Linked DNA regions of Homo sapiens. The protein of the gene in region 2 interacts with the protein of the main gene of each other region in a biochemical or structural test. Each region holds a gene or a part of one and is shown on either strand. Other genes may lie near its edges.

Evidence for each region. Proteins that work in one complex are often made in the same cells at the same time.
Region 1: the proteins of SNX18 (region 2) and RAB11FIP5 form a complex in vitro, tested with the Homo sapiens proteins (one study listed by IntAct).

What each region holds. Positions count from the first base shown.
Region 1 is NC_000002.12:73,081,544-73,088,948, forward strand, and holds part of RAB11FIP5 (rab11 family-interacting protein 5), read right to left. Parts: coding exon 7,336-7,405; intron 7,207-7,335; coding exon 6,507-7,206; intron 121-6,506; coding exon 1-120. UniProt on the Homo sapiens protein: Rab effector involved in protein trafficking from apical recycling endosomes to the apical plasma membrane. Involved in insulin granule exocytosis. May regulate V-ATPase intracellular transport in response to extracellular acidosis.
Region 2 is NC_000005.10:54,513,098-54,521,139, reverse strand, and holds the start of SNX18 (sorting nexin-18), read right to left. Parts: upstream 3,382-8,042; 5' UTR 3,188-3,381; coding exon 1,567-3,187; coding exon of another isoform or gene 1,301-1,566; exon of another isoform or gene 94-1,300; intron 1-93.

The DNA of each region.
Region 1 (7,405 bases), on a different chromosome or scaffold from region 2:
GTGCTTAGCATGGGAGCAGCAGTGGGAGCAGGAGTGGGAGGGGCCGGAGCCCAGGGGGAGCAGGGGAGGTGGTGAGGAAGAGCAGCTGGGTCAGATTCTACCTGAGGAGACACGTCCAGGCTGTGGAGGGAGACAAAACCGTGAGCCTCCTGGTTAATGCCAAGACTGGAAAGGCCCCTGAGTCCCACGCCCCACCCCCTGCTTCGGGACCAGGGGCCATAACACACACATAGGCTGGATTTACCTACTTGGGCCAGGGTACAGAGGGAAGACCCCAACATGTAACATTATCAAGTGCCTCCCAAGGAGAAATATGCCAGGCAAAGCTATTTTAATGCTCACTCCAACCCCAGAGAGAAATCATCTCATCTGATAGGCAGGATCCGATCCAAACCTAACCAAGTGTTCTTTCCTCTATCCCATGCTGAAGCTTCTAAGGTTCTACTCAACAAGGAATTTACATCTGGGAAAACTAATCTGAAAGCGCCTTACATCCCTTTTTTTTTTTTTTTTTTTGAGATAGAGTCTCTTGCCCAGGCTGGAGTGCAGTGGCGCGATCTTGGCTCACTGCAACTTCTGCCTCCCAGGCTCAAGCCATTCTTGTGCCTCAGTGTGTGCCACCACACCTGAATAATTTTTGTATTTTTAGGAGAGATGAGGTTTCACCATGTTGGCCAGGCTGGTCTCGAACTCCTGGCCTCGTGATCTGCCCACCTGGCCTCCCAAAGTTCTGGGATTACAAACATGAGCCACTAAGCCTGGCCCCTTTTAGGACTAAAAGCAAAGAAAACACCAGCTGGCATGGGGGGATAAAGAGACCAGAGAAAGGCCAGGCCTAGGTATCTGGCTGGACAAAACCAGAACTTATAGGACCTAGCAGGGCACCTAGAATTCTGACACTTGAAACAGCCTGGGTTCTATTGATCCCTTGCAGAAGCAGAAGTAATGACGGGCTGTCATTGGGTGTGACAAGGTGTCTTGTTTCTTTGAGGGGCAGCCTAACTGGCTAAGGAATATAAGCCACCTGTGGAGAACGTCAACCAAAAGGTGCCCTGATGGTCCAGCCTTTGTCTGCCAAGGCTGGCAGTGTGACAGCAGCAGCAACTCTGGATGTCACCAGGGGCTTCTCAGGGACTCTGGGGACGGGGACAGGGCAGGTGCTCTTAGGACACTGGAGAACAGGTTCTGGCCTTCATCTGTCCAGGACAGGGTCCTTTCTGGGGGAAACGCCCCCTGCACTGGTGCTTATCCACAGAGTGAGGCCGACTCCAGAGATGCGGGCAGGGGCGTGCTCTCAAACTAGAGCTTCTCACTTCCCTAGGACCCAGACAGAAGGCCAGAAAAAATGGCTGCCTTGCCACTGAGCCACCGTCAGAGGCAGACCTCGGTGGCCTCACCCTCTGCCTTCTAAGCAGTCTCCCTCCTCATGGCTGGTCTCCCAGGCCTGGCTCTAAGCTTCCAGGACCCCTGTTCCTTGGCTCCTGCCTGTCCAGGTGGAAATATCCTGGGGAAACCCCTACACATCCGACTTTTCAAGCCAACCAGCTTCTTGCACAGGAAATGTAGACAGTGAGTCCTGAAGGGGCAGAAGCCGGGCTTTGGCCAGCCAGCCCATAAGGAGTGTGGCTTGGGGTAGGAAGGGCACCTGTGGAAAGAGCATGAGCTGTCTGGAGCTTGCCCGGATTCTCCCAGGAACCCAGGGCCCAAAGAGGGCAGACCCACACAGAGGTGGACTGAGGCAGGTCAGCTCGGCAGCTACCACCAGGGGCGGACCACAGGAAGGAGTCCAACTAAACAGAGGCACAGGTAGCTCCAAAGATGGTTCTGGGAGAAGGGAGGTCAGCCTCACAGGTCCCAAACCCAGGGATTTCTCGTAAGAATCAGTTTCCCGAGAGTCTCCTGACCCTATTTTTCCCCTTACAATAACTCCCCATCCAAAGGTAAATTCTCAGTCTCATCCCCTCCACCTAAAGATGGAGGGAGAGGGAGGTAAAAATTCCCACCTGTTCCCACCCCACCTGGGCTTCCACTACTACCCTGCTTCTATGGACATGGTGAAGATACCAAAAGAGGAAGAATCGTGGGCCCAGAGCCTCAACCCCAGCAGATGCCCTTTCTCCCTTCATTCCAGACAAGCCCCAGGCCAAGGCACACATGCCTGCTGTGGGGACCAAGGGGAGTGAGAAGCAACATACACCACCACCAGGTCAAGAGCCTGACCTCAGCCCACTTGCCATTAGTGCATCCATACCACACCCAGCCCAACCCTGTCTACAGGACCCGGGCCCCCAGGAACAGGGCTAGAGCACTCTGAGCTGCTTCTCTCCCCAGCCCCCTTTATGACAATAGGCCACAGTGGTCTGAAGGAAGAGAGTCCCATCAACATTAAAAGCACTACGCTTAACTCTGCCCCCTCAGCCCTAACCTGGCCTGCACTCACCCTTGCAGTCTTTCAGCAACCTGGCTGGCAGTCAGAACTGCAGGGACAAGAGCGGCAGGGGAGTAGACTGGGAGCCTCAGGTTAGGCTCGGCAACCTCCCTCTCCCGGCCAGCTCCCCAGAGGTACACACAAACCTGTTTGTATAGAATCAGCAAAGGGCTCTCCCTGGAGGAAGGGACTCCAAGCACCAGGCCTGGCAGGCTTTACAGAGCCAGCAGTACTTCTGAGGGCATCTGTCCATCCTCCTATCTGGTAACACATCCCTCCTTCATGCCTTCCTCTTCCTTGCTCCACACCAAGTGCACATTCTGAAGGTTCTCACTTCAAAACATCTCCCTCCCACTCCACCTGGCCCAGGTCAGGAACATATTCCCACGTATGCTTGTCTTTGCAGGTCATGCTCTGAGAACAAATAAACACCTCTGCATCCTAGAACCTACTGTGCCGGCCTGGCACACTCTCCCCACCCCCAAGCGGTGGGGGCAGCAATATATGCTGATTTGTCTTCTCTTTTAGGATCAAATGCTGGGAAGGAAGTCAGAAGTCCAGATGTCTCTGCCCCTTCAACCTGAGGGAATAAAACTTTACTGCCTGCAGGAAGCTCTGAACAATTGGTTGAACCTGCCACTCAACACAGGAACCACCTGTTCACCCTGACAGCCCCTCTTCTTAAACACTACACCACAGGGCTACCTCTGTAGCTGAAGGCCAGGTGTCACTAGCAGACAACTCTTCCTTGGGCTGAAAAGAGCTCTGTGTCCTTGTTATTTCCACACACTGGTCCCAGAGATGGCAAGTGAATCTGCACAAGCTCTCTACCAGGCAATCCCCCAAAGGCCGAAGCCAGCCTTGGAGGCACGTTCATCTCTAGCAACACTGCCCTTCAGCCTTCCATCCTGAGGCACGACCTCCTGACCCTCCTGAGATGGGCCCAACGTGCAGGAAACATGTCCAAGAGACGGGTACATCCTCTCCCATCACCTGGGCACAATGAGGTGACAGGGGCCTTGTAAGCTGTAAGTAGGGAGAACGTATCATTTATCTTCCAAACCAGAACACTGTTAATACAGTAACCATGACAAGAGCATGGTTGTGAGGAGCACATGAGGAGAGCAGGACGTGAGGCTGCACTAACTCCAAGCCACTGGGAGCACATTATAGTTACTCATTTACACCACCAAGAATGCAGCCAAGCTCCTTCCGCTGCCACAGCACATTCCAGGCCCACAGGGAGGGACCTTGTTGCCTACCACACCTGGTGCAGGGAGGCACTGCAGAGACTGCCAGAGGCCACCATCATGATACACTCATCTCTATGTTGTACCACACTTATTCCCAACTTTAAAAGTTTTTGTAATCAACATTTGATCCCCTTCTGTGCATAGAGTCCTATGGTTAGTGTGGGGGGCGGGGAACAAGGGAACACAAGGATGACCCGGGATAGACACAAAGACAATCCACTTTGGCCCTGGCGGGTTTAAAATGCGTGGTCTTGCCTGTCCTCAAACACACGTGAAGTAGCCTGTGCTGCAGCTCAGTGTGAATGGCTCATAACAGGGCAGGGGAATGAGGCTAAGTCCTGTGGCCAAGACAAGCTTGGTCTCAACTACCTACTCCCTGCTCCAGCACACACTGGTAGGGGCCCAGTGTGACTGCCATGGCCCCCAGCAGACAAAGGCCACATCAGAGGAACAGCAGGACCCTCTTCTCAGCCCTGTATAGCCTCATTTGTTCCTTCCCCACGGCAGCAGCCTTTCTCTGGATACCATACTCAACACGTTCAGCCCCGGGCCTCTCTGTGGGGCATCAGTGCCACATGGGAGCACTAGAGGGCGCCGCTGTTCTTCCTAGTGAGGAACATCCCACAATCTGCAATGGTAGCCCCAAGGCAGAGGCCCCCATTCTCTGGACCTGGGGACAGGCTCCCCAGGCCCCAGCTGGAGATCCTGCAGCTACATTCAGTCACTCCAGTTCTGGGTCTAACCCACAGCTTCCTGCCATGAGGCAGCCCACCTCTCCTTCTCTCCTCAGAGGCCCTAAGCAAGCCCTCTGGGGAAGCGCCAACAGTCCTTTCTTCCAGGCCAGCCTTCCCCTCCCTGCAAGGCACACAAGGCCAGGATGCTGCTGATTGAGCTCAAAGGCCAGGTGTCACATCTGTCCAGGCCAGGCCATCTTACCCAAAGCACAGCCCCTCCCACCCCATCTGCATGCACGGCCACAGAGCCTGGCCCTGCAGCCGCCACCTGCAAATAGGCCCCATCTTGGGAGGGATGCTGAGTGCCCTCCATCCTGCTAAAGACAAGGCTCAGAATTCAAGTGACAGCAGGACAGAAACCTCAGCTTCCTTATGGCCATCAGTGACCCAAATCCTCCAGATTCCAAGAGGCCATTAGGAGATATGGGGAAGCAGGAGAAAGAGGATGGAGACTGTAAGTGCCCCAGGCCAGTGACAACCCCACAGACTCACAGCCTGTGGGAGTCCAAGCCCAAAGCCTGGGCAGGACTCACCTACAAATGGCCCCAGCATTCACCTTGCCCCAGAAAAGGCCCAGAGACACCGTACGCACAACCACACTGAGCCTGTGCTCTGTGCCCCTTTCAATCCAGGCCCTCAGCTCCTCCCAGCAAATGCCCTGTCCAGATCTCCTGCTACCTCCCTCTACCCTACCACCTCCAAATACCTCTGGCTGGCTGTCACAGGGACACCAGGCTCAGCCTGGCATCTGGGAAAGGCCTGTCCCCTTCTTCCCAATCTTCCCCTAGGCCGCAGATGGCCAGCAGCTCACCTGAGCTCTGGTGAGTAGGGGCGGGGCAGTAGGGACAGGAGCTGCCATACCAAGCAAGGGAGGCAAGGGGTGGCATGCCCCTGAAACTGATCCACCCCCCCATACCCCTATCTATGAGGGTCTAACAGGGATTGTCAGCTGACCATGGCCCAAACCTAGAAAGGCCTGCATGTCTCTCTCCACTCCTCTCAACAGACTCAGAGTGCCACAGGGAAACAAAAAGCCAGGACTACAAGATTCCTCTCCCCTCTGGGCAACAGGTTTAGGGTCCTTCCTCTGCCCTATCTTTTGCCCCCTTGTTACTGTGCTTGTCCTCTAAACCTGTCCAAGCAGCCATGGAGCGGGAAGGGCAGGCTTGTTGAGAGAAACAGTGCTCTCACCACACTGGCCAGGGCTGCCACAGATGCTGCCTATGAGGGCTGGCCCCAGGCCCTTGGGAAGGTGCGACACACACTTCTGTGACCTGTACCTGGAGCCCCTCTCTGGACCCTGCTATACAATTCTGCAGCCTCTCCTGGCTCAGAATTAGGAGGAAGCAAATGGTAGGCATCAGGGTCTCTGCCCAGGGCCTGAAATGGGGGACTCAGTATATTCAAAACAAAACAGCTGCCACCAGCACTTCCCACGGTGCCATACCTCAAGACCAAGAGACATCAGAGAGGGCCAGAGCTCCCAGGGTCTCCAAGGACAGAGATGGGTTACAGATTTCATGGGAGCTGCCCACAGCCTCTTGCCTGGGGAAGCAACTGGCAGGTGAATGGACGGGGGAAGGAGTGGTGGCTTCAGTTATTTGACTCCCGTCTCCCAGAGGGAAGTGATCACAGAGACAGCTGGGGAGAAGTCCTCTAGCTCCAGAGAGGGGAAGGGAAGTCTGAGAGTGCGGTCTCCAGTCCTCATCTCTCTACCAAGGCTTCCTTACCTTGAGGCCAGAGGGCAAGAGGTGGAGGTCAGGAAGCAAAGAATTCACACAAATGGACTTTCCTGCTTCCCTCCAGCTCAGGGGGTGGGCATGCCAACTCATGCAGCAAGGCCTAGGGCTGAGAAGTCGGACCCCTCAATCCATAGGACTCTCAGAGCACTATGCCCTCGTAACTCACCTGTGTCCGTGAGCACAGAACGAACCTTGGCTTAGGGAGACACCCCACTAAACCATGCAAAGCCAGAGCCCCAGCAGCCTGCCTGAGGTCCATATCTACTCCTTCCTCCCTGCCCCAGGGTCCAGGCAGCACACACCCCAGCATCCTCCCCAAGGAGCAAAGTTGGTCTTGCCAACGACTTACCTGGGTTTCTGAGTCGGGTCCTTGGCTTCTCTCAAGCCAAACCAGCTACTCTTGGCCTTTTCCTCCCCACTGGATGAGTGATGTGGGGAGGCCCCCAGGATGGGACCCCCCTTTTCCCCCAGAGAGCTTCGGCGACCCAACTCGCTCCGACTTAGGCCTTGGTGGTGGTGGTGGAAGAGACCCATCCGGGGCTTGCGTTCCTCCTTCCGGGCTCCCTCCTTCTCTGCCACAGCCTCAGAGGAGGCCACTATGGGTGTGGCAACCTGGACTGGCTTGCCCTCTGGTAGCCGGGCCCCCTCCTCCTCTCCAGGGTGGCTGGCCCCAGGGGCCAGGACTTTAGCCTGAGCACTCAGCTCCTCCTGTCCAAGCACTGCCTCTGAGCTGCTGTTGCTACGACTGCCTCTGGGCCAGGTGTCATCTGTGGAACGAGGCCCCTCCTCGGAGAACCGGGAAGAGACAGCTTGCAAGGAGCCAGAGGATGGAAGCGAGCCCGAGATGGAGCTGCGGTGCCGCACAGGGCCCTGGGGCTCCTCATTGTAAATGTGGCTCCCATTGACACAGAGCGAAGAGCGGGAGGCAGCATCCAGGTGGCCCTGAAGGTCCAGAAGGGCCCGAGGAGGAGCCACTCGCATCTGGTTGGCCTCATCGCTGTAGGTCCTCTTATGGGTGAACAGCTTGGGGGACTGTGCAGAGTCCCTGCCTGCAGGGGAAACACACAGAGTTAGCTCGCAGGAAGAGAGGCCCCATTTCCTGGCCCCAGGCCTTCATCACCACCCAAGGGGAGAGCCAGTGCCCCCCTCCCCAGGGCGGCGGCCCTGTGCTTGCTCACCCCCTTCAGTGGACAGCCAGCTGCTACGGCTTGGTGAGCGGGTGAGGAGTTCGGCGCCAGGTCCCTGGTA
Region 2 (8,042 bases):
AGGTCCAGAATGATGTAACACAATGGAATTTAAATGCTAAATCCCTCCATTAAAGGCTCACAAAGGCAGTTCCACCAACACCAGTCAAAAAAGTCAAAGATTCATAACAATTTATGTTTTAAAAAAAGGCATAGGTAATGTAAATACAGGTTTAATACAGGCCAACAGCAATATGATTGCACAAAAAACGAATTCAATATTAGACTGCATTTACAAATCGCAAATTGCCAAGAAAGTTACTACTGTCTACTAAAATTAGTACTGATGTCCAGGGTACTCCCTTTCAGCGGCAGCAACAAGACTGAAAACGTTTGATCATTCTCCCAGCAAGCCCCTTCCCCCATAGGAGTCAGAAGACCAGTCACGCATTTGGAAGGGGAAGGAGAGAAGCAGAGAGGAAGGAAGCGAGACTGCTGTCTCCAAATGTCTGAAGGCGGTCCCAGGGAACAGAAAGACAATCAAGGGAGGCAAACTTCAGTTCAATACAAGAAAAGACATGCCAGAGATCAGGGTTGCTCATAAACGGACTGGCCCACCAGAAAGGCAGTGAGCACTTCACCAGTAAAGGCCAGACCCGCTGAGGAAACAGGGACAGTAGGTTTCCCTGCTCAGGAGTAGGTTTCCCTGCCCAGCCGCCCCTACACTGGACTTTCACAGGCAAGACTGCCTCCCTAACTCCCACACCTCCCCATTCTCTCAATCAAGGCATTATATGAGAATGCACATTAGTAAGAAATGTTAAGACAAGCACTACTGCTATATATTTTTTTAATTTGCAAATTCTGGTGCTTTAGCAAAGGTCAGAGACACTAACAACTATTAATAACTCATGAACTCTGATAGTTGGACAGCTAACTCACTGGGATACCAGCAACGCTGCTCTCAGATCCAATACTCAGATTATATTCATTCTATGTAGTTTCCCTAAACAATTTTCCTAAACAACGTTCTCAATTTCAGTACATTAATAGATTTCAAACTCAAAATGAGTACGCTTTTCCTGAAATTACTTCACTTCGTAAAGGTTGCAGGCAAGAATTCTTTGCAGGAATTTCTTAAACTCAGAGAATTGATCTTAATTCCTCTACCAAAGCAGAGATTGAGAGGTGTGGAAGGGTGAAAGCAGATTTCTATTTACAGACATCCGTTCTTCTCCATTATTTCCTCACTTTTTGAAACTCACCACTAAGTGACAGTGCAGTGTTCAAACAGATACCTAACATGGTTTAGGTCCCCTTCTAATTCTACCCTCGTCTCAAGATTACAGATTTGAGCAGCTCATTACTCAACTATTCAAACTCTAAAATGATAGCACTGTCATCAAAGGTACTCTTTGAACCTTCGAGAAAGAGTACTCATTCCCTAATGCAAGATACTCGAGGAGGAAGCTGCCTGTCGAGCAATCCAACTTACACTCTAGGGAAAAGACCCAGGCGTCCACGTCTCTGCTCGCTTCCTCACCTGTAGAATATGATTCTGAAACCCACAGTGGTACTGCTGTCAAAGTCGCCCCTTTCAGCCTGCACAATACACTCCATATCACCTGCTCTAAGGGCCAGGCTTTACCTTTCTGAACGTGGATGATGTCCGGGAAGTTAGCCAGATGCCCCTGATACAGCGCTAATAGGTCCATGACGGGATCCAGGTCCTGCCTGGGCTGCTCCGCGAAGAGCTCGCCAATGGCGTCATAGGCATCTCCGGTGAAGGCGATAGCCTGGTTCAGGCCCACCGAGAAGGCCTGCTGGTCCAGCTCAAAGGCCTGGCTGAGGCCGCGGAAGGACTGGCCCACCTTCTGATACTCCTTTTTGAAGCCGGTCACCTGCTTGCGCGCGAACTCGTTGGCCGTGTGGTTGAGCTGCAGCGCGCTGTCGTCCATCTTCTTGGTGAAGCACTTGAAGCCGTCGATCTTGCTCTCCACCTCCTGCAGGTCAAGGGCAGCGGCGGGGGGCGTGCTAAGGGTCAGGAAGAAGTTGGCGCCCACCATCTCGTCCTTCTCGGCCTTCCTCTTGCCCTGCTTCCAGGCTTTCTCGTCGGTGCTGCTGGGGCACGTCAGGAAGTGCTGGAAGACGTCGCACTGCGCCAGCACTGGGTGGCTGGCCATGTGGTTCATCCACCAGATCAGGCCCTTCCTGCGCTTAGAGATGAAGTCCTCCTCGAAGCGGCCGGTGGCCTGCTTCTCGGGCAGGTGGGGCACGGAGATGACCGGGAACTTCTCCGCCAGGCGCGCGTACAGCCAGTCGAAGTGCTTGTAGCGCCGATGCACCGGCACCTGCGTGTGCGTGGGCACCAGCTTGTAGGAGATGTAGCTCTTCATGCCCTTGAACTTGGTCTGCTTGGTGGGGTCGTCGATGGTGCACTGGAACGGGTAGGGGTTCTCCTGCCACTCGGGGCCATAGGGCCCCAGCACCACGCACAGCTTGTCCCCGTCCTTCACGAAGCCTGACGCCTCCCCCAGCACGAAGGCCTCCCCGCCGGACTTGACGAAGGTGGAGAAGCGATTGAGGTTGCGGCTCACGGTGGCCGAGCTCTTGGGCCCCGACGGGTGGTGCTGCGGGGGGACCGAGCCGCCGCGGGAACCCAGGGACAGGTCGGAGCGCGTGGACAGGCGGTAGCGGCCGGCTGCGCCCACACCCGCCGAAGACGAGCCGTCGAGGTCCGGGTATGCTCCGCTGCCCAGAGCGCCCGGCTCGTCCGCCACCGTGGAGCTGTCGTCCCACTCGTCGTCCCAGTCATCATCGCTGCCTTGGCTGGCCTGGTAGCCGCCGTAGAGCTGCTGAGGCGACGGCTGCAGGGCGCCCCCGCCGTACGGGAAGCCCGCGCCGGGCGGCTGGAAGGTGCTCGGAGGCGGCGCCTGCTGTGGCTGCAGCAGCGCCTGGAAGGCGTCAGGCGGCGGCTTGAAGGAGGCGGGGGGCGCGACAGGCAGGGGCTCGAAGCCCCCGGGGGGCACATTGGCGTAGCGGGCCGGGGCGCCCGGGCCGCCGTCTCCCGCCGGGCCAGGCTCGGGGGCGCGGATCACCTGCACATAGGAGGCCGGGAAGAGGCCGCGGTCGCCGCGGCTGTTGACCCCCTCGAGCCAGCCCTCGATGTCCTGCTCGCTGCACAGGCTCAGCACCTCGTGCTCTCGCAGCGAGATCTCTCCTGGGTTCTCCGACCTGAAGTCGTACAGCGCCCGGGCGCGCAGCGCCATGGTCCCGGCGCCCCGACTGGCGGTCCCGACTCCCGGCGTCCCGAGCCGAGGCCCACCTGAGGGGCCCGCGGTACTGCTCGAGCCCTGGCGCGCGGACTGGAGCCCCGAAGGCGGCAAACCCACGCTGCCCGGACCAGCCGGTCGCGCCCTCCGCGCGGCTCCGCTCGCAGCGCCTCCACTTCGCAGCGCCGACTGCCGCGCTGGGCCGCCGCAGCCGCCGCCGGTCGGGGGCGGGGCCCGCGGCCTCCCACGTCTCCAGCTGCGCTAATCCACGGCCGAGAGCCCCTTGCCAGGCGAGAGCAAGCGATGGCCGAGCCGCCGAGCCCACCGCCCGCGTCGGCTTTGCGGCGGCCACTGCCCTCTAGTGGCCGGTGCCGCGAAGCCGGGCGCCGTAGTGAGCGCGGCTGAAGGAGGTTTCTACTCCGAAGTGAATTATCTGAGATTTCTTTAGGCTTTTAAGTTAAACATTCTCTAGAAAGTAAGTTAGCATTTGCATGCCTGATAAACGTTCCCACTCTGAGCGCTCAGTGAATGCTCCTAGAATGGCAACCCAGTCATGTAATAAAGCATTTTGCAATGCGAATTAGTGATTGCACTAAGAAAACAGGATGCCTCTGCGGAGGAGCTGTTCACCTACAGAGCAGGCTCCCTTCCCTCTTCTGCTCAAGGAGAGGAGATTGGCAAGAACAAAGTAAGGGCCAGGGAAGGTGCTGTGATTGACAAAATTAGAAGCAAAGGATCATGTAGAGAGGGAGGAGCTGGAGAGTTTCCAGTACAATAAATGCTCACACATTTATTACATGCATGTGTCGCCTATCCTCCCATAGATATATGTAGTGCGGTGAATGAGAGCTCAAACTTCGGAGCCAGGCTTCTGAATTTCAATCTGTGTTCTGACACTACCTAGCTGTATGACCTGGAACAAGGCACTTATATCGTACCTACCTCCGGGGGTTGTTGTGGGGATTCCATCATAAAGTAATCCCTATTTTACAGATGAGGAAAGTGAAACAATATCTGGCAGGGTAAGCAGATTTGAAGGGTTTGTTGCTGCTTTTGCTGCTGTTACTGTTATTTGGGGGAAGCAAAATCCCTGGCCTCTTTCACAAAGGGAATAGGGGTACTAAACTAACAATTGCAGGGTACATGCACCAGGAAGCGTCCCAATGTTCACATTGCCACTCCTAGTAAGAGGTCAGTGACCATCCATCCATCTGTTGTCTCTATGTCTCACTATATTTATATTATTTTTAAGATAAATAGAACAAAAATCACTTCCTGAAATAATCAGCTCCAATCTATCGTTGCCTTGTTTCCTATCTTCCTTTCCTTCAGTGTATAATTTGCCCAAAGCTTTTTCTTCTCTTAATCCCCTCTTATTAAGTCTAGCCTAATTATTCCTTTGAAGACACTTCTAATTGAGGTTCTGCATTCATGTGTCATTAATTTCAGCCTGTCCTCTGACCCTTTTCAAGGAAACCTGGGAAACGGGCCAGAAGAGTGTACAATTATTCTAAGGGCTGTGGTATTGTAAGCATCTTGCACAAAAACACAAACCCACTATACCAGAATCACTCCCACAGTGTTTATCCTAATGCAAAACCTTAATTCAATTCAGTAAGCATATTCTAAATTACATTTTTAGCTGAAAATTCTGGGTTTTGACTATTCTCACAGTAAGCAACAGGGATCATTGAATTTCAATGCCAACATTTCATGTGGTCAGAAACATGAAGTCCACATTAACTAAACCTCTAGAATATGACTCATTTTACTTCTGAAAAGCTAACCTAGAATATGTAAGATAAATAAATTTAGTTTCGCCCCTTCTGTTCGTTTAGTAGTTACTTTTTAGATTAGAGTTAAGTACAGTAACTTTGGGCTTATTTCAGGTGTGAAAATTCCAGGAGTTTAAGGTGATGATTTTTTACAGACTGGTTGAGCTACTCTGTAGAAATGGTGGTTGAGGAATTATTGGGTGTCCAAGGTTGTTTGTAGCACTGGGGCATGGGCGTCTGCAGGTGCTTACTTTGTAGGAGTCCAGTGGGAGGCCTCTGTGCTTGCCGCGCATCAGGCTTCCAGAAGGATGAGGACAGGCTGTCATGATGTTTGGCCCTATGGCCACTAGTGGCAGGAAAACCCCTACCTCTAGAGGGTCTTAGATATGTAGAAAATTGTGCTCCAGTATTAACAACCTATAACTGTTCACTCAGGGAAATAGATACAGTAACACATTTTGTAAAGATTTCTCTAGAAAATGGAGCATATTATTCACAGTTTAGTTTACACAATCATTATAACCACCCATATGCTTCTGTAAAGTTTTTAGGGGACACTAAATGACCCCAAACAATTGCATTTTCTTACTTCCTCCCTTGGCCTGAGAGGCCTTAGATAGCCTGGCCCTTGGCTATCTTTCCAGCCCCCTTTTCCACTGAAAGAAGCCACAGTGGTTGCTTTGCTATTTTTGGGACAAGTCAAGCACGTTTCTTGCTGAAGTTTTTGCCTTCGCTTTTCTCTCTCCCTGGAGCCCTCTTCCCCGGGAGATCCACCATGCCACATCATCGCTTCATTCGGTCAGAACCATGGGGCTTTCCATCCCTCCTTTCTTCTCCTTCCTTGGAGATACCGGAAGACAGAGGGAGCCTGGGTCCCTGAGTCACCGACCCCAATCATACTTTGTGAGAGAAAAATCCTTTGTCCGACTAAGCCACTGAAATTTCAGAGATTGCTGAGGCAGCTGGTACTAATTATGCTAATATAATCTCCCTCCCTCCCTCCCATCCCCTGTCCATCCCACAGTCTCACTTTTCTTTGTAGCAACTATGACCTAAGATAAACACGTCTATACATTAACGGCCTCCCCTATTACAACATAAACCTTTTCAGGGCAATGAGGTTTTCTGAGCACTGAGGATATAGCAATGAACAAAACAGACATGTTAGGCAACCAGTTAGTATTTGTTAGATGAATGAAAGAATGTCCACTTACATCCTCCCTAGATGAAGTCAGCTCTCTCCAGTAGCTCTTATTGTGTCTGGGTCAGCTTGCCTGGTGCCCTCTGCCACCCAGCTGTAACTGTTTCTAAGGCAGCTAAGTAACACTCCTCTTTAAATCAACAACGTTAAAGGTAACACAACCACCCAGAACACCACTGCAAATTTTCAGATTGTTAGAAATTTCACTATTACAGAGTGGGTCATTATTAAAATTAACACTATATTTTACTTGAAAACACTCATGTAATGCATCAAGCATTACACAAATATGTACATATGATTTTAGATGCACTTACACCTTTCCTGTGTTATTTCCTGCCGTATTTTCACACCAACTCATCCATGCATGGAGCAGATATTGCCATCCCCACTATCCCAGATCAGGACAGCCAACTGCAGAGAGGGTCGTCTGCTGAGGTCAGGTGACTGAGGAATGACCCAGCAGCTACTCAGCTGTCCTGAGAACTTCGGTTCACTGTGTCACAGGTCTGCACTCTGCTGGCGCCTCAAAACTACTACTATTATTAAACAGCATCCAGGCCCAGCACAGTGGCTCACACCTACATATATATGTTTTATGTATATAAAAATTTATATATACAATTTTTTATTATTTATATATTATATATTATATATATTTTATATATAATATATAAAAATTTATATATACTATATTAAAATTTCTATATAATATATAAATTTATATATATCATATATATTTATATAATATATAAATTTATACATATGATATATATATTTATATATTATATAAATATATATATCATATATATTTATATATTATATAAATTTATATATATCATATATATTTATATATTATATAAATTTATATATATCATATATATTTATATATTATATAAATTTATATATATCATATATATTTATATATTATATAAATTTATATATATCATATATATTTATATATTATATAAATTTATATATATCATATATATTTATATATTATATAAATTTATATATATCATATATATTTATATATTATATAAATTTATATATATCATATATATTTATATATTATATAAATTTATATATATCATATATATTTATATATTATATAAATTTATATATATCATATATATTTATATATTATATATTTATATATTATATAAATTTATATATATCATATATATTTATATATTATATATTTATATATTATATAAATTTATATAATATAAAAGTTTATATATTATATATAAATATATATTATATATAAATTTATATATTATATAAAAATATATAATATATATAAATTTATATATTATATATAAATATATAATATATAAATTTATATATTATATATAAATATATATTATATATAAATTTATATATAAATAAAAATTATATAGGTATACATTTTATACATATGCGTGTATATATGTGTACACACACATGCGTGTGTATATGTGTGTACACACACATATGCACACACGTATATGTAATATTGTTTTATACTTTATATATTTTATATATTATAAATAAAGTAAAATGAAGAGCAACAGCCATTTACTAGAAGGTTTGTAGCTAGGCTTAATAGAAAGCCTGGCTCAAGCCTGCACTCCCAGCACTTTGGGAGGCCAAGGTGAGTGAATCACTTGAGGTCAAGAGTTCGAGAACAGCCTGGCCAACATGGCAAAACCCTGCCTCTACTAAAAATACAAAAAAATTAGCCATGCATGGTGGCACACACCTGTAGTCCCAGCTACTCAGGAGGCTGAGGCACGAGGATCGCTTGAACCCAGGAGGTGGAGGTTACAGTGAGCCAAGATCATGCCACTGCACTCCAGCCTAGGCAACAGAACAAGACTCTGTCTCAAAAAAT